2 separate regions of the Homo sapiens genome follow, and region 2 is linked to region 1. The links come from fine-mapping of genetic effects on gene expression. A gene starts in region 1. The other region holds a variant in brackets. All regions are shown on one strand. Distances are between the middles of the regions.

Region 1 (9,797 bases):
AAAACAAACAGAGAACTGGGGAGGGAGGAGCTGAGCTTCTAGCTTGGAGTGATGGGGAAATCTAGTCATACCAGAGTGTATCTGTTTTCTGTTTCTGTTGTTAGGGGAGGCAGCACAGACTGATTGGAGCCAGGAAGGCAGGACATGGGGTCTCTGGGAGAGAAAGTGTGTTCTTATAGTAGTTCCCTGAGCTTGGCTGAGGAGCCAAGACCCCGAATTATGTACTAGTTCCTGGAGAAATTGTGTTTTGGTGTTGTCATTCGAGGGTGAGGTTAGGGTGAGGGGCTCCATTGGCTGTCCTGCCCAGCACTGCATACTGGAGGCCCTGCTGCCAGTTTCTGAATCAAATTTCTTCCACAAGCTGTAGGATGAGTGTGTTGTCCTGTAATCTTCACTGGGTGTTCAGAGATGAATGCATCTCAGACAGGGAAAGGCAACAAGGGCTGCTGTTATCTTATGGGGTTTCTCATGTAAAACCTGGGGTGGGTCAGGCACGGTGGCTCACACCTTTAATCCCAGCACTTTGGGAGGCTGAGGTGGGAGGATCACGAGGTCAGGAGTTCGAGACCAGCCTGGACAACATGGTGAAACCCCATCTCTACTAAAAATACAAAAATTAGCTGGGCGCGGTGGCGGGCACCTGTAATCCCAGCTACTTGGGAGGCTGAGGCAGGAGAACCCGGGAGGCAGAGGTTGCAGTGAGCAGAGATTGTGCCACTGCACTCCAGCCTGGGGGACAAAGCAAAACTCCATCTCGGGTAAAAAAAACCCAAAAACCAAAAAAAAAAAAAAACCAAAAACCTGGGGTAGAAGAGCCCCTTTGGGAGAGCCTAGGGGTGTTGCTGGTCCCAGGCTGCCTGAATGGTGGGGCTGCCTGAATGGTGGAAGCATTACCCTAAGACCCAGGGTCTCAGGGAGAAATGTGAGCTGCCAAAGATGGTGCCTTCTTGTCCAGGGTGCTAGGTAGTGGTTGAGAAAAGAGGGGGTCTTCATGTTCTCAATGCATGGCAGCCTCCCTTGCCTAGTGCGCACGGGCAGACTGAAGTAGGTTAGAGTCCACTAGCACTTCCTGGTGCTACCACTAGGGCGTGCTGTTTGCTGGAGTGTGGGTTTTACCCCCAGCAGATTTCTGTCTCAAAATTCCACGGATAGGACTTCACTTTTCAGATGCTACCAGTCAGGAATGAAACCCTGTACACTTCTCTCTCCATTCCCCCTCACAGTTTTCCCTTCCTTTGTCCCTCCTTCCTTCCTTTCTTTTACGTCATATTAGGACACATGCCCACCCCTTGGTGCCAGTGAATTTGGTCTTAAAAGGGCAGGCGTGATGATGTGTTTGTGTTTTTTTTTTTGTTTGCTTTAGAAGTGGGCACCCTAGCAATAGCAGCACTGCCAAGAGGACTTGTAATCACCTCTTATCCCTGCAAAGAATGAGAAAGGGGAGGGGCAGCCAGGAAGGAGATTAACAAACTTTGTTGGAGCCTTTCGTCTAGGCTATAGACTGAAGGATGACAGAGGCTTTCTTTCTTTTTAATCTAGTCTGCTTACATCTTCCCCCAGGTAATTCATGTAGATAATTCCTGTCCAAAAGCAAGGTCTAAGGTGGCATCGGTGGCTCACGCCTGTAATCCCATCACTTTGGGAGGCAGAAGCAGGTGGATCAGTTGAGGCCAGGAGTTCAAGACCGGCCTGGCCAACATGGCAAAACCTCGTCTCTACTAGAAATACAAAAATTAGGCTGGGCACAATGGCTCATGCCTGTAATCCTAGCACTTTGGGAGGCCGAGGTGGGCGGATTGCCTGAGTTTAGGAGTTTAAGACCATCCTGGTCAATGTGGTGAAACCCCGACTCTACTAAAAACAAAAAAGATTAGCTGGGCGTGGTGGTGTGCACCTGTAATCCCAGCTACTCGGGAGGCTGAGGCAGGAGAATTGCTTGAACCCAGTAGGTGGAGGTTGCAGTGAGCCGAGATTGCACCACTGCACTCCAGCCTGGGCGACAGAGTAAGTGTCTGTCTCAAAATAAATAAAATAAAATAAAATAAAATAAAATAAAAATACCGAAATAAAAACACAAAAATTAGCCAGGTGTAATCCTAGTTACTCAGGAGGCTGATGCATGAGAATTGCTTGAACCAGGAGGTGGTGGAGGTTGCAGTGAGTCAAGATCGTGCCACTGCACTCCAGCCTGGGGGACAGAGTGAGACTCTGTCTCAAAAAAAGAAAATAAATAAAAAAAAAAAAAAATAAAAGGAAGGCCTAGAGACTAAGGCAGGCCAGGGGGATGGGGAGATGGAGAGATAGTATACTTGTGTGATTAAGAGTATATGAGCTCTGGAGGTTCCATGAGATAATGTGCTTAAGTCCTTAGCAGTGTGTCTGGCCCAGTAAGTGCTCAATAAGTGATAGCAATTATTATTACAGGAGCATTTTGGAGAAAAGGAGAGTCTCCTCCAGAAGGATTTCAGATCATTGTGAGCCTGTCTTGGGAGAAGCATGATCTCTGGGAACGCTCACACCAGAATCCTCCTCCTAGATTAAATTAAAAGTTTAAAGAGCTAGAATGGGAGGATGTATGGTAGAGATGTCTCCCAGAGATATTTAGATCTCTATTCTCTGGTTGTAGAATAACCAAAGAGGGTTAGAACAGATAGGAGAAGAAACAGACAGTTGGATTTCAGAATGGATAGGGTCTATTTCTGTTGGTAAAAGAGACTCAGAATACCAGATTTAAAGTAAATAATAAAGATAGCATAAACTATGTGATTTCCAAAAAGTGCTCAGCTTCCTCTGCCTGTTCTGGGCCTGTCTGTCCAACAGAATTCAGTGAAATCTGATTTCCTCATATTCTTTTTTAATTTTTTTTTTTTGAGATGGAGTCTTGCTGTGTTGCCCAGGCTGGAGTGCAGTGGCCTAATGTGGGTTCACTGCAAGCTCCGCCTCCCGGGTTCATGCCATTCTCCTCATTCTCCTGCCTCAGCCTCCCGAATAGCTGGGACTACAGGTGCCCGCCACCACGCCCGGCTAATTTTTATTTTTTTGTGTTTTTAGTAGAGACGGGGTTTCACCGTGTTAGCCAGGATGGTCTTGATCTCCTGACCTTGTGATCCGCCTGCCTCAGCCTCCCAAAGTGCTGGGATTACAGGCGTGAGCCACCGCGTCTGGCCTGATTTCCTCATATTTTTTAGGAAAGTGGAGTCAACTTATATTTGAGGAAGGCGTTTATAGGAATTTATGCTTATCCCAGAGATCTTGGTATGTTTTGTCAAGAATGAAAAGGCACGTGGGTCTGGTGGGGATGCAGTCAGATATTTGATCTCTTGACTGTGTTTCTTTTGAAGTAGTCTGAGGCTCAGACTTTGGGGCAGTGGCCCAGGCTTGGAGGCAACCCCCCAGTCTCTCTTTGCATGGGGAAGTGTGCAGAGTTCTCTTAGAACACCCAGTCACATGGTGTAGAGACTGCTCTTACACTTCCTGTAATCTCAGCATGGGAACAAGCCTTTGTGTCACACTGTGCAACCTTCCTCCCTTTCTTAAATGCTTGGGGTGAGAGAGAAGAGAGGCTAGGGTGGGGCATGGAGGACACAGAGAGAGAGAGTGCTGTGTATTCCTTCCCCGCTACTGTCCTGTCCTCAGCTAACTTGCTCTGGGACAGCTTCCCCAGGGCTACAGATACTGCACTCAGCTGACTGTCCTTTCTTCTGGGCCCCTGGTCCCAGAGCAGAGCTGACAAAGGAGATTCCTGAGAGAGCACCTTCTTATCACAGAAAGTGCTGAGCCAAGAGCTCCTAGCTGCCCCTTTTGCAGATGTGAAGGGCCAGTGAACCTTGGACCCAGATGGTTGCTTAATACTCCTTTCCCCCTCCCTCACTCCTTCCTTTGCGGGCTGCCTCACCTCCTCCACCCTTCTTGCTTAAATCCATAGGCATTTGTCTGGCCTTCCCTTTTACTGCTGGCTGGGAAGGAGGAGCATCAGACCACAGATCCTGGAAGGCACTTCTCTCCCTGACTGCTGCTCACACTGCCGTGAGAACCTGCTTATATCCAGGACCAAGGAGTGAGTGTGCGTTCCACCCTCTTCTCATCTCCACTTACCTTGCTAACCCTCCTCTTTGCTGCTGTGCAGTGTCTAATCGCTTCTTCTCCCGAGTGCCTCTCACCCTAACATCTCTCCATTGCTTGACTAGCCTCTCCCATTTTCCTCTCAGCTGTCTCCTGTTCGGTGTTTTCCAGCATGTGCTGCCTGGCTGCAGCTGTCTCCCTGCCTTGGCTCGGGGTGATATCTCTCCAGCAGCAACTCTGGGGTAGGGAGTGGCCATCAGCTGCCTCCAATCATCCCTAGGTTTTATGGTACATTGGATCGCCCTTCTCTCATTCATACTTTTTTGGGTGATTCAACGATGCTGATGTGAGGGATCGATAGCAGGAGGCTTAGAATACCAGAGAATGGGAAAGGAAAAGCAAGGAAAAGATAATAGCCTGTCTTCTTTCAGGGTGAAGTGGGTCTACTTGGGCTTTGCCAGGGCTGAAGACTCCAGCTAAGGGTTAAGGGATGCTCTTTGGGCAGGAGGATGGTTGTGGGTTTCCAGCAGGTTTCTGAAGCCTTTAGTTTTGGCAGACGTAGAGTCCTTGGGGAAAAGAGCAGTGTCATGAGACGCTCCCACAGATTAGCTGCTGGTAGGGTCAGTTCCTAATGTTGTACCTCAGCACAGGTGATCCCTGAAGCTGAAATTGGAGGGAAGACGGGTTTTGGATAAGGCTGAAAACTCGGGGTCAAGCCATTATAGTTATTTTCTGGGAGCCGCCACACTGCCCCCATGCCTGTCTTGTATTATAGCAGGCTCAGAGAGAACCAACATTTAGTGTTTTGTTTTTGATTTTGTTTTTTTTTTGAGACAGAGTTTTGCTCTTGTTGCCCAGGCTGGAGTGCAATGGCCCAGTCTTAGCTTACCGCAACCTCTGCCTCCCGGGCTCAAGTGATTCTCCTGCCTCAGCCTCCCAAGCAGCTGGGATTACAGGCATGTGCCACCACGCATGGCTAATTTTTGTATTTTTAGTAGAGACTGGGTTTCTAAATGTTGGTCAGGCTGGTCTCGAACTCCCGACTTTAGGTGATCTGCCCGCCTTGGCCTCCCAAAGTGCTGGGTTTACAGATGTGAGCCACAGCGCCCGGCCCAAGATTTAGTTCTCTATTTGGTGAGTCGGGTGGGCAGCAATGTCCTAATGATGAGAGACAGATCCTTTCTCTCTGGCGAATGAGTGCCTTCTCTTAAAAATTCAAGTTGGAGGCTGGGCAAGGTGGCTCACGCCTGTAATCCCAGCACTTTGGGAGGCCGAGGCGGGCGGATAACCTGAGGTCGGGAGTTTGAGACCATCCTGACCAACATGGAGAAACCCCATCTCTACTAAAAATACAAAATTAGCTGGGTGTGGTGGTGCATGCCTATAATCCCAGCTACTTGGGAGGCTGAGGCAGGAGAATCACTTGAACCCGGGAGGCGGAGGTTGCAGTGAGCTGAGATCGCGCCATTGCACTCCAGCCTGGGCAACAAGAGCAAAACTCCATCTCAAAAAAAAAAAAAAAAAATTAGCCACGCGTGGTGGCAGGTGCCTGTAATCCCAGCTACTTGGGAGGCTGAGGCAAGAGAAGCGCTTGAACCCGGGAGGCTGAGGTTGCAGTGAGCCGAGCCGAGATTGCACCACTGCACTCCAGCCTGGGCTACAGAGCGAGACTCTGTCAATAAATAAATAAATACATAGATAGATAGACAAATATTCAAGTTGGGGTTGTTTTGATGAGTGAGCTGGAGAAAAGGTTATTTGGAGGTCTCCGCATTGGTTGGTGAGCTGCCCGTATTACCCTGTGTTGGAGGCGGGTAGAGGTTCTATGTAATTGCCAACCACCTAATCTATAGCATCATCTTTCTTCCTTAAAGGGCAATGCCAGGAAGCTGGTGAAGGGTTTCCTCTCCTCCACCATGGTTGACAGCACTGAGTATGAAGTGGCCTCCCAGCCTGAGGTGGAAACCTCCCCTTTGGGTGATGGGGCCAGCCCAGGGCCGGAGCAGGTGAAGCTGAAGAAGGAGATCTCACTGCTTAACGGCGTGTGCCTGATTGTGGGGAACATGATCGGCTCGGGCATCTTTGTTTCCCCCAAGGGTGTGCTCATATACAGTGCCTCCTTTGGTCTCTCTCTGGTCATCTGGGCTGTCGGGGGCCTCTTCTCCGTCTTTGGGGCCCTTTGTTATGCGGAACTGGGCACCACCATTAAGAAATCTGGGGCCAGCTATGCCTATATCCTGGAGGCCTTTGGAGGATTCCTTGCTTTCATCAGACTCTGGACCTCCCTGCTCATCATTGAGCCCACCAGCCAGGCCATCATTGCCATCACCTTTGCCAACTACATGGTACAGCCTCTCTTCCCGAGCTGCTTCGCCCCTTATGCTGCCAGCCGCCTGCTGGCTGCTGCCTGCATTTGTAAGTGGGGCTGGGGTAGGAGGTGGTGGGTGGAGGGCTGGACAGAGGCTGGGATGTGAGTGCAGTCTGGGAGTAAGAAGGAGATAGAGAGGAATGTCTCTGACAACATATATATATATATATATAGTTAAAGTATGCTTTGTGTGAAAATTCAAACAGTACCACAGTGTATCGCAAAAACACTCACCTTTTCCCCAGCTTCTCACAGTAAGCACTATTAGCAGTTTGCATATTCTTCCTGATTTTTTTTTTTTTTTTTTAAAGAGACAGGTATTTTGCTCTGTCACCCAGACTGGAGTGCAGTGGTGTGATTATACCTTACTTCAGCCTCGAACTTCTAGGCTCAAGCTATCCTCCTGCCTCAGCCTCCTGAGTAGCAGGGACCACAGGCACACTGATTTTTTTTTCTTGTTCCTTCAAGAGATGTAGTTTTGGCAGGGTGTGGTGGCTTATGCCTGTAATCCCAGCACTTTGGGAGGCTGAAGTGGGCAGATCACCTGAGGTCAGGAGTTCGAGACTAGCCTGGCCAACATGGTGAAACCCCATCTCTACTAAAAATACAAAAATTAGCTGGGTGTGGTGGCAGGTGCCTGTAATCCCAGCTACTCAGGAGGCTGAGGCAGGAGAATCGCTTGAACCCAGGAGGCAGAGGTTGCGGTGAGCCAAGATCGCACCACTGCACTCCAGCCTGGGCAACAGAGTGAGACTCTATCTCAAAAAAATAAAAATAAAAAAAAAAGAGGTGTAGTTTTGTTCTTTTACAAAAATGAGGTCATACTAGTCTACATGTAATTCTACAGTGTGCTTTTCCTCTAGCATTATCAGTGACATTCTTTTCTACTTACAGATCTACTTTTTAAAAAATGCTTCATATTATTTCATGTGAATTTTAAGGATGCATAGTAGTTTATTTATCTAGCTGGTCCTCTGTTAATGGCCATGTACGTTGGTTTCAGTTTCTCAGTCTTACAGATAATGCTCCAGTGAATATCTTTTTGCAGCTGCATGAGTATTTCTGTAGGCTGGATTCTTCCTTTTTTTTTTTTTTTTTTTTTGAGATAGAGTCACTCTGTCGCCCAGGCTTGAGTGGTGCAATCTCAGCTCACTGCAACCTCCATCTTCTGGGTTCAAGTGATTCTCCTGCCTCAGCCTCCCTAGTAGCTGGGATTACAGGCATGTGCCACCATGCCTAGCTAATTTTTTTGTATTTTTGGTGGAGACGGGGTTTCACTGTGTTGGCCAGGCTGGACTCGAACTCCTGAGCTCAAGTGATCTACCTGCCTTGGCTTCCCAAAGTGTTGGGATCACAGGCGTGAGCCACTGCACCCGGCCTCTGTGGGCTAGATTTTTAATACTGTCATTTCAGTCCACCTTGGCTTTTTCTCCATCTCATAAATAAAACATTATTTAAATCTGTACATTCAGTAAAGCCATTGGAGGTGCTGAGATGATGATTCTCCATAGCCCCATCCCTCAGATGCCACTATTCTTGAAAAATGCCCTTCCAACCTGGGAGAGCCTAGGACCTTAGAGATGCCTTCCACCCTGCAACTGTGAAGAAGCTCAGACATTCTGTCAATTTGAGGGGCAGCTGCTCTAGCAGTTGGGGCACAGGAATTTTGCACCAGGTGCAATTGCTCATTGGCTCACCGCTCTCCAATCAGTTTGTGTCCTTTTTTCTTTCAATTTCTGTATTGCCCCATTCACTCCTCAACTTCCTTTCCAGCTTCTCTGATTTTACTGTTGTGTAGAGAACTGGCTGTCTTCTGTGGGGTCCTTCTGTGTTTTGTGTGTCCTTGTGTCTGGCCTGGACTCATCTCTGCATATGGGATGTTTGTCATACATGGCAACAGTCAGGGAGGGGTGGAAGGCACTGCTTTGTGTTGCAAGAAGGGGGTTTTCACTGAGGTTTTTTTTTTCCGAGACGGAGTTTCACTCTTGTTGCCCAGGCTGGAGTGCAATGGCACAATCTCGGCTCACCACAACCTCTGCCTCCCGGGTTCAAGTGATTCTCCTGCCTCAGCCTCTCAAGTAGCTGGGATTACAGGCATGTGCCACCACGCCTGGCTAATTTTTGTATTTTTATTAGAGACAGGGTTTCTCCATGTTGGTCAGGCTGGTCTTGAACTCCCGACCTCAGGTGATCCGCCCGCCTTGGCCTCCCAAAGTGCTGGGATTACAGGCATGAGCCACTGTGCCCAGCCTTCACTGAGGTCTTAAATATGATCTGTGATTTCTCTTGCATTACTTGCAGATGATCTGGTAGGTTGCTTACTGGCAAAACTAATTTTAGGATCTATTGGTCTTGGAGCACCCTCAAATGTGGGCATATGGTTAATTATATCATGTGCAGAGAAGGATCATTTCATCTAAGTAATATTTCTAAGATGGCTGCATTCCTTTAAAATACCAGAAATCTATTTTTTTTTTTTTTTTTGAGATGGAGTTTCGCTCTTGTTGCCCAGGCTGGAATGCAATGGCGTGATCTTGGCTCACCGCAACCTCTGCCTCCCAGGTTCAAGTGATTCTCCTGCCTCAGCCTCCCGAGTAGCTGGGATTACAGATGTGCTACCATGCCCGGCTAATTTTGTATTTTTAGTAGAGATGGGGTTTCTCCATGTTGGTCAGGCTAGTCTCGAACTCCGGACCTCAGGTAATCCGCCTACCTCGGCCTCCCAAAGTGCTGGGATTACAGGCATGGGCCACCTTCCCGGCCTTAGAATTCTATTATTTTAACTATCTTTGTCTGTGTCATTTCTGACAGCTCTTGTTCCTCGATTCTGACCTTGTGCCTACCTCTGCCAGTCAACCCTTTTTAATTTTCTGCTGTTGCTGCTTTTTTTTTTTTTTTTTTTTTTTTGAGACAGTGTTTCCCTCTTGTTGCCCAGGCTGGAGTGCAATGGTGCGATCTCAGCTCACTGCAACCTCCGCCTCCCGAGTTCCAGCGATTCTCTTGCCTCAGCCTCCCAAGTAGCTGGGATTACAGGCGCCCGCCACCACGCCAAGCTAATTTTTTGTATTTTTAGAAGAGATGGGATTTCACAGCCACTGCACCTGGCCAATTTTCTGCTTCTAATTTGGGTATAGAGACATACATGTTTAAATCCTCATTCACCCATGTACACATTCACGTGCCTGTACATCCTTGTAAGAATACATGCAAAGGCCGGGTGCAGTCGCTCATGCCTGTAATCCTAGCACTTTGGGAAGCTAAGATGGGCGGATCGTGAAACCCCCTCTCTACTAAAAATACAAAAAAGGCCGGGCATGGTGGCTCACGCCTGGAATCCCAGCACTTTGGGAGGCCGAGATGGGTGGAT
Region 2 (16,064 bases), 26 kb after region 1:
AATGACTGATCTCATGTACTTGTGGCTAATGAGGTGGAACAGTCAGATGCTGGGCCCCCCAACGGACTTTTGCCCTTTGAACCTTCTACTTGGAAGCTAGTTGCCTTTTTCAGAGGGCTTTTCCCAAGAGCCATCTGAGGGTGGAGGTGAAGAAACTTACCTTTTCTGGCCCATATTCACCTCAAGAAATAGGCTTTCATCAGAGCCTTGGGTTCTAGTGTGGGTTTGTTGTGAACTTTGGAACAAACTCTTGACCAGCAGTGAAGGGGTAGACCTTTATGCTGCTTTGATCATCAAGTCCCTTTGGGGGCTCATCCTTGCTCTCTTCCTTTCTATGTTCTATGTTTCTATGTTCCTTTCTTTTTCTCTCTGCCTCAGAAGAAGCTGGGCAGGTAGCCTAGAGGAGGTTGCGGAAGATGCTGGGCAGCAGTGGGTCCTAACTCTGGCTGTGGATTGGAATCATCTGGAGAATTAAGAAAACAAGGCCGGGCACGGTGGCTCACGCCTGTAATCCCAGCACTTTGGGAGGCCGAGGCGGGCAGATCACAAGGTCAGGAGATTGAGACCATCCTGGCTAACATGGTGAAACCCGTCTCTACTAAAAATACAAAAAATTAGCTGGGTGTGGTGGCAGGCGCCTGTGGTCCCAGCTACTCGGGAGGCTGAGGCAGGAGAATGGTGTGAACCCGGGAGGCGGAGCTTGCAGTGAGCCGAGATTGCACCACTGCACTCCAGCCTGGGCGACAGAGTGAGACTCTGTCTCAATTAAAAAAGAAAAGAAAAGAAAAGAAAAGAAAAGAAAAGAATAGAAAAGAAAGAAAGAAAGAAAGAAAGAAAGAAAGAAAGAAAGAAAGAAAGAAAGAAAGAAAGCAAGCAAGCAATACTCAGATTGGGCACGGTGGCTCACACCTGTAATCCTAGCATTTTGGGAGACTGAGGTAGGAGGATGGCTTAAGCTCAGGAGACCAGTCTGGAGAACTTGGTCTCTACAAAAAAAAAAAAAAAAAATTAATTGGGCATGGTGGTGCATGCCTGTAGTCCCAGCTACTCAGGTGGCTGAGGTGGGAGGATTGTTTAAGCCCATTTGGTCCAAGCTGCAGTGAGCCAAGATTGTGCCACTGCATTCCAGCATGGGCAACAGAGTGAGACGCTGTCTCAAAAAAAAAAAAAAAAAAAAAAGAAAGAAAGAAAACAATACTCATCACTCCCACTCCCTGACTACATAAATCTGAACCACTGGGGAGAAGAATGAGATGAGAATTGGCTTGGAGAACGAGAATTAAGGAAGCAGAAAAATTGCTTTTGAGGAGAATTGATGAGGGTCTTGTGTCACTAGAGGTGGGAAAAGCCGTTCTCAATTGTCACCATGCTTCAGAGTCACCTGGGGAGTTTTAAAAACATGCCGATGCCTGGGTTCCACCCCAGAATTTCTGACTTCATTGGTCTGGGTGGGGCCTGAGCACTGGACTGTTAAAGCTCGTCAAGTGATGCTAGTTTGCAGCCAGGATAGAGGAGCCTTGAGTTAGCAAAGGGTTGCGACTGTTCTGATACAGCTGCTCTGTGTGTGGTTATTTCCGTAGGTGATTACCTAAGGAAACACACCCAGAGAAGCAGATCCTCAGATTAGCCTGCGAAACTGTCTCAGGTCTCCTGCATCAGAACCTCTGGGGTGTGGGGCCCTGAAGTTGTGGGTCGACAAATTCCTCAGGTGGTACTGATGCTCACTCAGGCTTGAGATCTGGTACCTGAGGACTTGAACTGACCCCTAGCTAAGCAAACCAATAAGGATTGGATTTACACGGCTTGGAGAAGGGACTCACGGGGTTGTTACTATAAGACCCTCCTGGTACAAACTGCCTGCTTGCTCCCTCAGAGTGGTCAGAGCCACAGGGACCAAAGTGCTGACTGAGTTCCAGGAAGGAGAGCGGGAGGACTCTGATCCAGTGACCCACAGGGATTGCATTTGGTGTGTCTTCTTGCCAGAGGTGTAACTGCCCAAGGGGTTCACCTTGCCCACTGCCTAGACAGAGCCAATTCTTCAAGACAGGGATATTGCAATAATGAGTAATTCACACAGAGCCGGCTGTGCGGGAGACCGGAGTTTTATTATTACTCAAATCAGTCTCCCCGAACATTCTGGGAGCAGAGTTTTTAAGGATAACTTGGTGGGTCAGGGGAAGCCAGTGAGCCAGGAGTGCTGATTAGTTAGAGATGAAATCACAGGGAATCAGAGCTGTCTTCTTGCTCTCAGTCAGTTCCTGGGTGGGGGCCACAAGATCAGCTAAGCCAGTTTATTGATCTGGGTGGGGGCCAGCTGATCCACCAAGAGCAGGGTCTACAAAATACCTCAAGCACTGATCTTAGGAGCAGTTTAGGGAAGGTCAGAATCTTGTAGCTTCCAGCTGCGTGACTCCTAAACCATAATTTCTTTTTTTTTTTCGAGATGGAGTCTTGCTCTGTCACCCAGGCTGGAGTGCAGTGGTGTGATATTGGCTCACTGCCACCTCCACCTCCCGAGTTGAAGTAATTCTCCTGCCTCAGCCTCCCTAGTAGCTGGGGTTACAGGTGCACGCCACCACACCCAGCTAATTTTATTTTTTATTTTTAGTAGAGACAGGTTTTCACCATGTTGCCCAGGCTGGTCTTGAACTCCTGACCTCAGGTGATCCGCCCTCCTATGGCTCCCAAAGTGCTGGGATTACAGGCATGAGCCACCGTGCCCAGCCCTAAACCATAATTTCTAATCTTGTGGCTAATGTTAGTCCTACAAAGGCAATCTAGTCCCCAGGCAAGAAGGAGGTCTGCTTTGGGAAAGGGCTGTTATCCTCTTTGTCTAAATTATAAACTAAGTTTCTCCCAAAGTTAGTTCAGCCTATGCCTGGGAATGAATAAAGGCAGCTTGGAGGTTAGAAGCAAGATGGAGTCAGTTAAGTTAGATCTCTTTCACTGTCTCAGTCAAAATTTTGCAATTACAGAGGCTCTCACCCATGACACCTGAGTAAGCGAATTGGTTGTTTCTTTAAAATTTTTATTTTAATTGGCTGGGCGTGGTGGTTTACGCCTGTAATCCCAGCACTTTGGGAAGCCGAGGCGGGCGGATTACGAGGTCAGGAGATCGAGACCATCCTGGCTAACACGGTGAAACCCTGTCTCTACTAAAGAATACAAAAAATTAGCTGGGCTTGGTGGCGGGCGCCTGTAGTCTCAGCTACTTGGGAGGCTGAGGCAGGAGAACGGCATGAACCCGGGAGGCGGAGGTTGCAGTGAGCCAAGATCGCACCACTGCACTCCAGCCTGGGCGACAGAGCGAGACTCTGTCTTTAAAAAAAAAAAAAAGATATTTTTCTTTTCTTTTCCTTTCTCTCTCTCTCTCTCTCTCTCTCTCTCTTTCTTTCTTTGAGACGGGGCCTCACACTATCATCCAGGCTGGAGTGCAGTGGTGCAATCTCGGCTCACTGCAACCTCCGCCTCCTGGGTTCAAAATGATTCTCCTCTCTCAGACTCCCAGGTAGCTAGGATTACAGGCGTGCGCCACCACGGCTGGCTAATTTTTGTATTTTTAGTAGAGACGGGGTTTTGCCATGTTGGTCAGGCTGGTCATGAACGCTTGACCTCAGGTGATCCGCCCACTTCGGCTTCCCAAAATGCTGGGATTACAGGTGTGAGCCACCACCACGCCTGGTCAAAAATGTTATTTTATTTTCTGAGACGAAGTCTTGCTTTGTTGCCCAGGCTGGTGTGCAGTAGCATGGTTATGGGCTCAATCCTGCACTCAAGTGACCTTCCCACCTCAGCCTTCCAAGTAGCTAGGACCATCAGTGTGCACCACCAAGTCCAGCTAATTTGTAATTTTTTTGTAGAGAAAGGGTCTTGCTATGCTGCCCAGGCTGGTCTCCAACTCCTGGCCTCAAGTGATCCTCACGTCTTGGCCTTCCAAAGTGCTGGGATTATAGGCATGAGCCACTGCACCTGGAGTAAAAGGTTTCTGTAGTCTGAAAGGTAAAATAATTTGAAGGCCATCTGCTATCTGAGAGAAATAACAGCACCTAGGGAGAGTGGAAGAAATAATGTATCAAAGAAGCCAGGGTGAAATTGTGATTTCAAGGTGTAGAGAGTTTCCAGGCCGGGCGCGGTGGCTCAAGCCTGTAATCCCAGCACTTTGGGAGGCCAAGGCGGGTGGATCACGGGGTCAGGAAATTGAGACCATCCTGGCTAACATGGTGAAACCCCGTCTGTACTAAGAGTACAAAAAAATTAGCCGGACGTGGTGGCGGACGCCCGTAGTCCCAGCTACTCGGGAGGCTGAGGCAGGAGAATGGCGTGAACCCAGGAGGCGGAGCTTGCAGTGAGCCGAGATGGCGCCACTGCACTCCAGCCTGGGCGACAGAGCGAGACTCCATCTCAATTAAAAAAAAAAAAAAAAAGGTGTAGAGATTTTCCCAAACCAACATTAGACAAAACAAATGGGGATGCAGCAAAGAAAAGGAAGAAGAGACTTGAAATCTCTGGGTTTAGGTAACAGATATGAGGCGTTTCCAGAGAGCTTATATCTGGACCTTCTGAGGAAACAGCAGTGGTAGAGTATTTTGGAGACACCAGGGTATTAGCAGGCCTGAGTATGCCAGTTGTGGGGTTTGGCCTTCCCCCAGGAATAGTGTGCATCTGACTATACACAGACCCAGCCTAACCTAGAAATGTGCAGTTTTTCTGAGCAACATGTGACCAAGAGCTTGCTCACACCAATTAAGCCTAGGGACTGCTATCCTTCTGCTAATTGCTGTGGGATGAATGATGTCACCAGTCAGAAGATAGCTGAGATGTCTCACTGGTGACGTGAAGTTTAAAGTAGCAAACTGAGTGGCAGGTGGAATTTTCGTCTCTTTGTCAGCTGAAGGCTGTGTATGTGAAAGAAAAAAGAACACAGAACAGAGTTCCTAACCGTAAATTCTAAGATTCTAAGATACCAGAAAGATAAACTCCTGGTAAGGGATAGAGGAGGTTTATAGGGATTGGGAGAGATGTGTATAATAAGGCTTTAGAATGGAAATTTTAGAGGCAAGGAGAAAAATGCCTAGATAAAAGTATAAATCTGGGTATTTTGGAGACTACATAGCAGAGAATAAAGGCAGAGAGGAGTTGCTCAGTAACGCATTTGGAGAAAATGGGATGGAAGATCAGAAATGATGCTTTTGAACTCTTATCTACAAATATTACAAGTAAGGCTAATAAACGTATTTGACCTTTTTTTTTTTTTTTTGTGAGACGGAGTCTCGCTCTGTCACCAGGCTGGAGTGCAGTGGCGCGATCTTAGCTCACTGCAACCTCCGCCTCCTGGGCTCAAGTGATTCTCCTGCCTCAGCCTCCCCAGTAGCTGGGACTACAGGCGCACACCACCACACCCAGCTAATTTTTGTATTTTTAGTAGAGACGGGGTTTCACCATGTTGGCCAGGATGGTCTCAATCTCTTGAACTCGTGATTCGTCTGCCTCCGCCTCCCAAAGTGCTGGGATTACAGGCATGAGCCACTGTGCCCGGCCCGTATTTGACCTTTTACTGAAAGGAGGAAACAATTTCATAGGCATCAGCGATATTTGATTAGAATATGATAATGAAAGAGTATACTTTGTTCAAAAATGATGATTTGCTAGAAGAGCTGGGATTCATGTAGTACATTAAAGAGAGAGGTACATACTTGTTTGAGGATCTGCTATCATAAGGGATGCCTGCCTTCTTTGCATAAGGTCACATTTAGATTCTTTTGATTGCAGTGAGAGGGAAATTTCAGTACACCAAGATCCAGTGAGCTGTCAAGGGTTTCACTTCCCCTTTCTCCATTTTTCAACAAATGTAATGAATAGTACCACCCAGTGCTACTTCCAGTTTTCTGCCTGCAGTTAGGTTTTTTTTTTTTTTTTTTTTTTTTTTTTGAGACAGTCTTGCTCTGTCACCCAGGCTGGAATGCAGTGGTGCAATCAAGGATCACTGCAGCCTTGACCTCCCCAGGCTCAAGCAATTCTCCCACCTTAGCCTCCTGAGTAGTTGAGACTACAGGTGCACGCCACCAGGCCCAGCTAATTTTTGTATTTTTTGTAGAATCAGGGTTTCTCTATGTTGCCCAGGCTGGTTTCAAACTCCTGAGCTCAAGGGATCAGCCCACCCTGGCCTCCCAAAGTGCTGGAATTACAGGAGCGAGCCACTGTGCCCAGCCAACATATGAGTTTTCTATTGCTTCTCTAACAAGTTACCACCAATTGAGTGGCTGAAAACAACACAAATTTATCATCTCATAATTCTGGAGGTCAGAAGTCTGAAATGGGTCTCACTGGGCTAATATGAAGTAGCACTGTGTTTCTTTCTGGAGGCTTAAGGAGAGGATCCATCTTCTTGCCTTTCCCAGCTTCTAGAGTCTCATGGACCCTTCCATTTTCAAAGTCAGCAGTAACTGGGAGAGTCTTTCTCATATTGTACTACTCTGACATTGACCTTTCTGCCTCCCTCTTTCATCTTTAAGAACTTTTGTGATTACATTGGGCCCACCCAGAGAATACAGAATGATTTCCCTGTTTTGTCACTTGATTAGCAATCTTCATTCTGTCTGCAACTTTTTTCTTTTTTTTTTTTTTTTTTGAGCCAGAGTCTTGCTCTGTTGCCCAGGCTGAAGTGCAGTGGTGTGATCTTGGCTCACTGCAACCTCCGCCTCCTGGGTTCAAGCAATTCTCCTGCCTCAGCCTCCTGAGTAGCTGGGATTATAGGCACCCACCACCACACCCAGCTATTTTTTGTATTTTTAGTAGAGACGGGGTTTCACCGTGTTGGTTAGGCTGACTCATGTTGGTTAGAATTCCTGACCTCAGGTGATCTGCCCGCCTTGGCCTCCTAAAGTGCTGGGATTACAGGCATGAGCCACTGCGCCTGGCCTCTATCTGCAACTTTAATTCTCCCTTGCCATGCAATATAACATGGCTCACAGGTTCCAGGGATTAGGGGGTGGACATCTTTGGGGGGCCATTAGTCTACCTACCACAAGTGATAGCCCAGCTTTCCACCGGAGGTGGATGAGCAGCACTCTGAAGTGATAACTTAAGGTGGATTCTTGCCCAAATTCTAGGCTTGTAAGTTAAATCTGGTTAGTGAAGTACGAGCAGAAGGGTGGGAAATCATTAGTAACGTGTATGAATTCACTAAGAACAAGCCATACTCTGCTAACCTCACTTTTTGGTTCAATTTTAATTTTTTTATTCAAATATAATATACAGAAGGAACAGTGCAATCTCATAAGTTTATGGCTTAATGAATTGTCACTAGTTGAGCACATGTGTAACTAGCACCCTTGAGCCCTTCTTATGCTCTTCCCAGTCCCTGCCTCTCCACCCCACACAAAGGGAAATCACTATTCTGACTTCTAGTAGCATTGATTAGTTTTCTCTGATTTTATGTAAATGGATATAATCTATATGTACACTTTTGCATCTGGCTTGCTTATTATGTTTGAGATTCTTCTGTATTTTTGTCTGTAGTCGTAGATTGTTCACTTTTTTTTTTTTTTTTTCCCAGACAGAGTCTCACTCTGTCGCCCGGGCTGGAGTGCAGTGGTAGGATCTTGGCTCACTGCAACCTCCACCTCCCGGGTTCAAGCGATTCTCCTGCCTCAGCCTCCTGAGTAGCTGGGATGACAGGTGCCCGCCACCACGCCCAGCTAATTTTTGTATTTTTAGTAGAGACGGGGGTTTCACCATGTTGGCCAGGCTGATCTCAAACTCCTGACTTTGTGATCTGCCCGCCTTGGCCTCCCAACGTGCTAGGATTACAGATTGTTTATTCTTAGTGCTGTTTAGTATTTATTCAATCTACTGTTGCTGGGCATTTGGGTTGTTTCTAGTTTTTGACTACTGCAAGGGTGTAACTATGAATATTCTACATAAATATATACTAATTTGATTTGAATTGTTTGATAGCATCATTAGATTGTTAGAGCAGAGGCATGTGTATGCAGATTTCGGAGAGGTTCGTGGCAAATTCTCATGATATTCTTGTTGACAAGGTAGACTAGATAAAAATAAAGTTTGGTAGATTCTTAGTTGGCTGAATAACATTGTGGAATAATGACAAATACAGAAAGGTCTACAGTGATAGACTATACAGCTCTGTTGATCTTAGTCAACATTTTAATTTTTTTTTTTTTGAGACGAACTCTCGCTCTGTCACCCAGGCTGGAGTGCGGTGGCGCGATCTCGGCTCACTGCAACCGCCGCCTCCCGGGTTCACGCCATTCTCCTGCCTCAGCCTCCCGAGTAGCTGGGACTACAGGCACCCGCCACCACGCCCGGCTAACTTTTTGTATTTTTAGTAGAGATGGGGTTTCATTGTGTTAGCCAGGATGGTCTCGATCTCCTGACCTTGTGATCTGCCTGCCTCGGCCTCCCAAAGTGCTGGGATTACAGGCGTGAGCCACCGTGCCCGGCCTAACATTTTAATTTTTTTATTAAAAAAATTTTTTTTGAGACAGAGTGTTGCTCTGTCACCTAGGCTGGAGTGCAGTGGCACAATCTTGGCTCAGTGCAACCTCTGCCTCCTAGGCTCAAACAATTCCCATGTCTCAGCCTCCTGAGTAGCTGGGACCACAGGCGTGTGCCATCACACCCTGCTAATTTTTGCATTTTCCTTTTAGTAGAGATGGGGTTTTGCCATATTGCCAGGCTGGTCTCGAACTCCTGGCCTCAAGTGATCTGCCTGCCTCAGCCTCCCAAAGTGTTGGGATTACAGGCGTGAGCCACTGCTGCCAGCCCATGTCAACATTTATTTATTTATTTATTTATTTTGAGACGGAGTCTCACTCTGTCGCCCAGGCTGGAGTGTAGTGGTGTAATCTTGGCTCACTGCAACCTCCGCCTCCTGGGTTCAAGCGATTCTCCTGCCTCAGCCTCCCGAGTAGCTGGGACTACAGGTGCCCACCACCACACCCGGATAATTTTTGTTCTTTTAGTAGAGACGGGGTTTCACTATGTTGGCCAACCTGGTCTCAAACTCCTGACCTCAGGTGATCCTCCCTCCTCGGTCTCCCAAAGTACTGGTATTACAGGCGTGAGCCACTGCGCCCGGCCCTAGTCAACATTTTTAGGGTGACTTCAGTGAAGACTCAGGAGGTATGCTGATCAAATTTGCAGATTTCACAAAATTAAAGAAGGGATTTGAACTAATAAAATGAAGAAGGAAAAATCCCATATCATATAAGAATAATGCATAAAAACTCAGAGGAAAGTCACTAAGACTAAATATGAAGTCCTGTATCTGGGGGGAAAAAATCACTTTTTTTGTTTTGGAGAAAGGATCTTACTGTGTTGCCCAGGCTGCAGTGCAGTGGTGCGATCACAGCTCCCTGCAGCCTTGACCACTTGGGCTCAAGCGATCCCCCTGCCTCAACCTCCCAAGTAGCTGGGACCACAGGTGTGTGCCACCATGTCTGGCTAACTAAAAAAAATGTTTTGTGGAGATGTGTTCTCACAATGTTGCCCAGGCTGGTCTTGAACTCCTGGACTCAAGCGATCCTCCAACCTCGGCCTCCCAAAATGCTGGGATTATAGGCATGAGCCATCGCACCCAGCTAAAAAAATCATTTTTATAGGTCCAGAAAGAGGGGAGGAAAGATCTCATCACTTTGAGGTGGGAAAGAAAGGAGTTGTAGTAAACAATGATTTCAGGTTGAGACTCCGTAGTCGGCAACACGGTCTGGAGTTTTCTGTGTGGGGTCTTGCATTTCTGGGGAAATACTGACACAGTGAAGTATATGCAGTAAATGACAAAGTGAAATAAATGACAGTCCTGGGATGGTGAGGGGTCTGGAAGCCACATTTGCTCCACAAGGGGTTGTAAAATCTGGGTTTTAGCCTGAAGGAGTAAAGACTCAAGGGGACAGGATGTTCATCCTTTTTGTTTGTTTTTAGATGGAGTCTTGCTCTGTGGCCAGGCTGGAGTGCAGTGCCGTGATCTCGGCCCACTGCAACCTCTGCCTCCCGGGTTCAAGCAATTCCCCTGCCTCAGCCTCCCGAGTAGCTGGGACTACAGGCTTGTGCCACCATGCCTGGCTAATTTTTGTATTTTAGTAGAGACAGGTTTTCACCATGTTGGGCAGGCTGGTCTCAATTTCCTGACCTCGTGATCCACCCGCCTTGGCCTTTCAAAGTGCTGAGATTACAGGCGTGAGCCACTGCACCTGGCTTTTTTTTTTTTTTTTTTGAGACAGAGTCTCGCTCTGTGGCCCAGGCTGGAGTGCAGTGGCGCAATCTCGGTTCACTGCAAGCTCCGCCTCCCGGGTTCACGTCATTCTCCTGCCTCAGCCTCCTGAGTGTCTGGGACTATAGGCGCCTGCCACCACACCCGGCTAATTTTTTGTATTTTTAGTAGAGATGGGGTTTCACCGTGTTAGCCAGGATGGTCTTGATCTCCTGACCTCATGATCCGCCTGCCTCAGCTTCCCAAAGTGCTGGGATTACAGCGTGAGCCACCGCGCCTGGCTTTTTTTTTTTTTTTTGAGATGGAGTTTTGCTTTTGTTGCCTAGGCTGGTGCAATGGCGAGATCTCAGTTCACCGCAACCTCCACCTCCCGAGTTCAAGTGATTCTTCTGCCTCAGCTTCCCGACTAGCTGGGATTACAGGCATGTGCCACCACGCCTGGCCAATTTTTGTATTTTTAGTAGAGACGGAGTTTCTCCATGTTGGTCAGGCTGGTCTCGAACTCCCAACCTCAGATGATCTGCCCGCCTTGGCCTCCCAAAGTGCTGGGATTACAGGCGTGAGCCAGCGCCTGGCCGTGATATTCATCTTTAATGTTAAGAAGGGCCATTGGGTGGAAGAGGATTTAGCTTCATTCTGTGTGGAGACAGAGGAGGGGTCTGGCACTACTGGTAGAAGCTGGGAGGAAGACGCTGTTGGCTTAGTAAAAGGAAGAGCTATAGATCACTTTATTTTATTTTATTTTTTGAGATGGAGTCTCACTGTGTCACCCAGGCTGGAGTGCAGTGGCGTGATCTTGGCTCACTGCAATTTCTGCCTCCCGGGTTCAAATGATTCTCCTACCTCTGCCTCCAAGTAGCTGGGATTACAGGCATGCGCCACCACACTCAGCTAATATTTATATTTTTAGTAGAGACGGGGTTTCGCCATGGTGGCCAGACTGGTCTCAAACTCCTGGCCTCAAGTGATCTGCCCGCCTCAGTCTCTCAAGGTGCTGGGATTACAGGCGCGAACCACCGCGCCTGGCTCTATAGATCACTTTTAAAATGGAATGACGCCGGGCATGGTGGTTCACGCCTGTAATC[A/G]TAAGTTTTGTGTGTTACATTGTGTGTATTTAAAGGTAATAGTGCTTACAGAATTGTGGGTTTAATGTTCTTTTTCAGGAAATGTTTCATTTAGGTGTCTAAACTAAACCTGAGCATCTGATCCAGAGTGGGCCTGCAAGCTTTGTTCTGTTCTGGATCCACCTGGTCTGGTGCTTTCTGGCTTTTAGTTCTAGCGCTGATGCTGGGCCTTACCACTAGAACTAGTCTCCTACTCCCGGGGACCGTATGTAGGCTGGGTTTGATGATCCATTCAGGAACATCTTTTTAGATGGTTATAGGAGTGACTTCTCTTTTTTTTTTTTGAGATGGAGTCTTGCTCTGTCACCAGGCTGGAGTGCAGTGGTGTGATCTTGGCTCACTGCATCCTCCGCCTCCTGGGTTCAAGTGATTCTCCTGCCTCAGCCTCCCAAGTAGATGGGACTACAGGCACACACCACCATGCCCAGCTAATTTTTGTATTTTTAGTAGAGACAGGGTTTCACCATGTTGGCCAGGATGGTCTCGATCTCTTGACCTCGTGATCTGTCCACCTCGGCCTCCCAAAGTGCTGGGATTACAGGCGTGAGCCACTGCACCCGGCCACGAGTGACTTCTTTGCAGATTCTTTTTTTCTCCCCCTGGGGTCAAAGCAGGAGTGCTGCTGCACCGAGTCAAGGGTCAAAGGTGATTTCAGGTTATCCTCTTATAGACTTGGCCCAGTGTTGGGTGGGGATTGAATTGCCCCTAGAGGTAGAAGGGGAGGGCATCTCTGCCCTTGAGGTTAACTTGCAGTTGCCTCCATATTATCCTAACCCCATGGTCCCCTCCTGTCCTTGGCCCTGAAGCAGGAGGTTGGGCTCCACTTCAAGAGCAGTGCACTTAGCTGGGCTCTGGGGCCAGTGGTCAGCTGTATCCGCTGAGGTGGGGACAAAAAGCCCTGTCAGCACTGCTGCCTGCCATACCCATTTCCTGCTCCCACAGTCAAGAGGCCCTGGAGGAAGCTAGGCTTTGAGGAAGAGGAGGGCTAGCTCTCTTCAGGCAGTTCCCTCTGCTCCCTGGTTTCTTTCTGTAGGATTCCCTTCCTCATTCAAACTGAGCCTTCTGTGCTCAGTACAGAGAGCAGATCAGGGCTAGAAGGTGGGTCAGAGAAATCAGGCTCAGGAGTGGGGGAGGTGGGATACTGGTGGACAAAGAGAGGGATACAAATGGATGGATAGAGAAGTAGAGAAGAGACTGGGCACGCCACGCCGGTGACTCACACCTGTAATCCCAGCACTTTGGGAGGCTGAGGCAGGCGGATCACCTGAGGTCAGGAGTTTGAGACTAGTCTGGCTAACATGGCGAAACCCTGTCTCTACTAAAAATACAAAAATTAGCTGGGCATGGTGTTGAATGTCTGTAATTCTAGCTACTCGGGAGGCTGAGGCAGGAGAACCGCTTGAACCCAGGAGGCGGAGGTTGCAGTGAGCTGAGATCGCACCACTGTACTCCAGCCTGGGGGACGGAGCAAGACTGTCTCGAAAAAAAAAAAAAAAGAAGTAGAGAAGCAATAGGGATTAAAATGTAAACAAGCCACCCAGGTGCCATGGCTCTTCCCTATAATCCCAGTTACTCCTCAGATAGCTGAGGTGGAAGGATTGCCTGAGGCCAGGAGTTCGAGACCAGCCTGGGCCACATAGCAAGACCCCGTCTCTAAAAAAATTAAAACAGCCAGGCACGGTGGCTCACACCTGTAATCCCAGCACTTTGGGAGGCTGAGGAGGGCAGATCACAAGGTCAGGAGTTCGAGACCAGCCTGACCAACATGGTGAAACCCTGTCTCTACTAAAAATACAAAAATTAGCCAGGTGTGGTGGTGGGCACTTGTAGTCCTAGCTACTCAAGAGGCTGAGGCAGGAGAACTGCTTGAACCCTGGAGGCAGAGGTTGCAGTGAGCTGAGATCGCACCACTGCACTCCAGGCTGGGTGACAGCAAGACTCCATCTCAAAAAAAAAAAAAATTAAAACAAATTAGCTGGGCATGGTGGTGCACACCTTTGATCCCAGCTACTAGGGTGGCTGAGCTGGGAGGATCCCTTGAGCTCAGGAGTTCGATGCTGCAGTGAGCTATGATTTCTCCACTGTACTCTGGCTTGGGTGAAAGAGTGAGATCCCCATCTCCAAAAAAAAAACAAAAAGGGACGGGTGTGGTGGCTCACGCCTGTAATCTCAGCATTTTGGGAGGCCGAGGTGGGCGGATCACCTGAGCTCAGGAGTTCGAGATTAGCCTGGCCAGTATGGTGAAACCCCATCTCTACTAAAAATACAAAAATTAGCCAGGCATGGTGGCACACACCTGTAGTCCCAGCTACTCGGGAGGCTGAGGCAGGAGAATTGCTTGAACCTGGGAAGTGGGGGTTGCAGTGAGCCAAGATCATGCCATTGCACTTCAGCCTGGGTGACAGAGCAAGACTGTGTCTCAAAAAATAAATAAAATAAATAAATAAATAAATAAATAAGTCAATAAATAAGTAAATAAAAAAAAATAATAAAATATAGGCCGGGCGCGGTGGCTCATGCTTGTAATCCCAGCACTTTGGGAGGCTGAGGTGGGTGGATCACCTCAGGTCAGGAGTTTGCGACAAGCCTGGCCAACATGGTGAAACCTCATCTCTACTAAAAATATAAAAATTAGCTGGGCATAGTGGCGCACACCTGTAATCCCAGCTACTTGGGAGGTTGAGGCAGGAGAATGGCTTGAACCCGGGAGGCAGATGTTGCCATGAGCCGAGACCACGCCATTGCACTCCAGCCTGGGCAACAAGGGTGAAACTCTGTCTCAAAAAGAAAAAGAAAAATAAATAAAATAAAATATAAACAAGCCATGTATTTCCATTTCAGAATCTGCTGTGGTAGCAGGTGGTGAATTGGTTGCTTATCCCTCCTTTTCCCTGCCTACATCCCTGGACAGAACTGAGAAGAACCTTGTGGCACACAGCTCAGACTCTGAGTCTGAACTAGAGCTAGTCCTGTAAGCTTATTCCAGTTTGGTGTTATGACTCATGGTTACCCTGCAGGGAATCATAAATTTGTATTTGGGGATCCCATTTTCCTGACAATGTGGCAGCATCCTTTGTGTCTGGTGTTTCTACTTGGAAACCTGGCTATGTTGTGGTTATGAGCCAGCCGCAGAGCCTAGGATAAGGGCAGAGGTTACAAGCTGGGGAGAAGGGGCACTAAGCTGTTGAGTGGCTGGAGGCTGGAGTCCAGTGGGGAGTAAAGGATGGGTGACTGGCTGAGGAGGAGTGACAGATTTGAAAGATTTGTGGAGGGCAAGATACAGCCACTTTGGTCATTTTGTGGGGTGCTGCACACTTGTGTCTTAAATTATTAACTTAGCACTGGGGTGGCCTGGAGCTGTGGGTACATTTTTGCCCAGCCCTGTGATAAGGTTTGTTGTTTATTAGGCAGAAAGGCAAGCATTTATATAGGACAGGAATGTGCCTTCTCAGGAAGAGCAGAAAGGAACTTGGGCAGTCAGTAGAATGAGGGTGGTGGTGGAAGGGAGGGTGAGAGAGAGAAGATGGGGCAGCTGTTCTGAGAGGCCAGACTTCCCTGCTTCTCAGGATGAAGTAGCCAGAATGTGGTGAGGCCAGGACACCACAAAATAGGAGGACTAGCGACACCAAGGCCACACCACTGCCAGGAGAACTCAGAGGGTGTTTCTGACTGTGTTGGTGGCCTGAAGTAGGCAAGAACTGTACTAGGCCTCATTCTCTTGACTGGTAAGGCAGGGTGATGTTGACCTTGCCCTTGGAGCCCTTGGGAGAAGGGCTTTAAAGTTAAGCCCTCCTTATAGTGTTCCAGTTGCTGAGCTGGGAAGGAGGGAGCAATGAAGCGATTCGCTATGCTACCAGTGGGAAGATCTGTATTTTTTTTTCCAACTTTCTTCTCGGCCACATTCTGGGGCTACTGGTCAACCTCACAGCATGCGTGAGCCTCCCTTGTTGAACTTCTTCAAGTAATTCAAATTCAAGTCGTAGATTGTAACTTTTTTGTTGGGGGAGGGATAATGGACTTGAGATTCTGATAAAAGCTATGATCCCTTTCTAAGAAAAGATATGAAACTTTTTCTTAGGTATGTCTGTATTCATATGGACATAACACTTTGAAAGAGAATTTCGAGCCTCATGGAGGCCCTAGTTAAGAACCCTGATAAAAGGTACTTTTAAAACCTGTACTTCTGAGTAGAAGGACTGGGGGAATGTGTGTGGCTCTTACTTCTCTATTGTCCCATCAGGAAAAATGCCCTGTCCCCATTCTACAGGAACCACTCTTAGCTGCAAGAATCTTTCCAAGCACAAAAGCAGGCAGCTGAGCTGCCAGGCAGTGGGCAGGAAGTCTGGCCTTCATCCTAATCCTTGGCCACACAGCCTGACCTGCTGGCTCAGCATTGGATAAGTCACAGCAGAACTCCTCAAGGTTAACAGTAATACCACAGAGTCAGAGTGCTGTGTCCTGGAGCCCATGGGGAATGGGAGGTAGGAGGGAGAGACCATGACTTTTCAGAGCCAAGAGCCGGAACAATCACTAATCCTGTACAGTTCCCAGTTGCCTCCCACTGCTGTGATTGGACATTTGGATGTATTTTTTATGTAAGCAGATCTGCAGTCACTTTGTTTTGTGTCTCCCATATAAGGTGCTGGGGGTGGGGAGTATAGAGGCCTTTGTATGATAATGGTGAGGACATTCTGGGGCCCCGAGGGTTC

Evidence for each region.
Region 2: its variant is fine-mapped to the expression of SLC7A7 in whole blood (INTERVAL, PIP above 0.99).

Annotation. Positions count from the first base shown.
Region 1 is chr14:22,809,580-22,819,376 of GRCh38, reverse strand. It overlaps SLC7A7 (solute carrier family 7 member 7), which reads left to right and starts at 3,942. Exons shown (of 10, transcript NM_003982.4): 1 at 3,942-4,057; 2 at 5,937-6,477. The coding sequence starts at 5,979. RefSeq lists enhancers at 3,853-3,952, 4,141-4,647 and silencers at 5,955-6,014, 6,035-6,094.
Region 2 is chr14:22,780,192-22,796,255 of GRCh38, reverse strand. All of the region lies in intron 2 of SLC7A7 (solute carrier family 7 member 7), which reads left to right. Among named protein-coding and RNA genes, the nearest start is that of OXA1L, 22 kb to the right of the region's middle. RefSeq lists a silencer at 12,649-12,819. The variant A/G (reference allele first, on the strand shown) is at 11,317.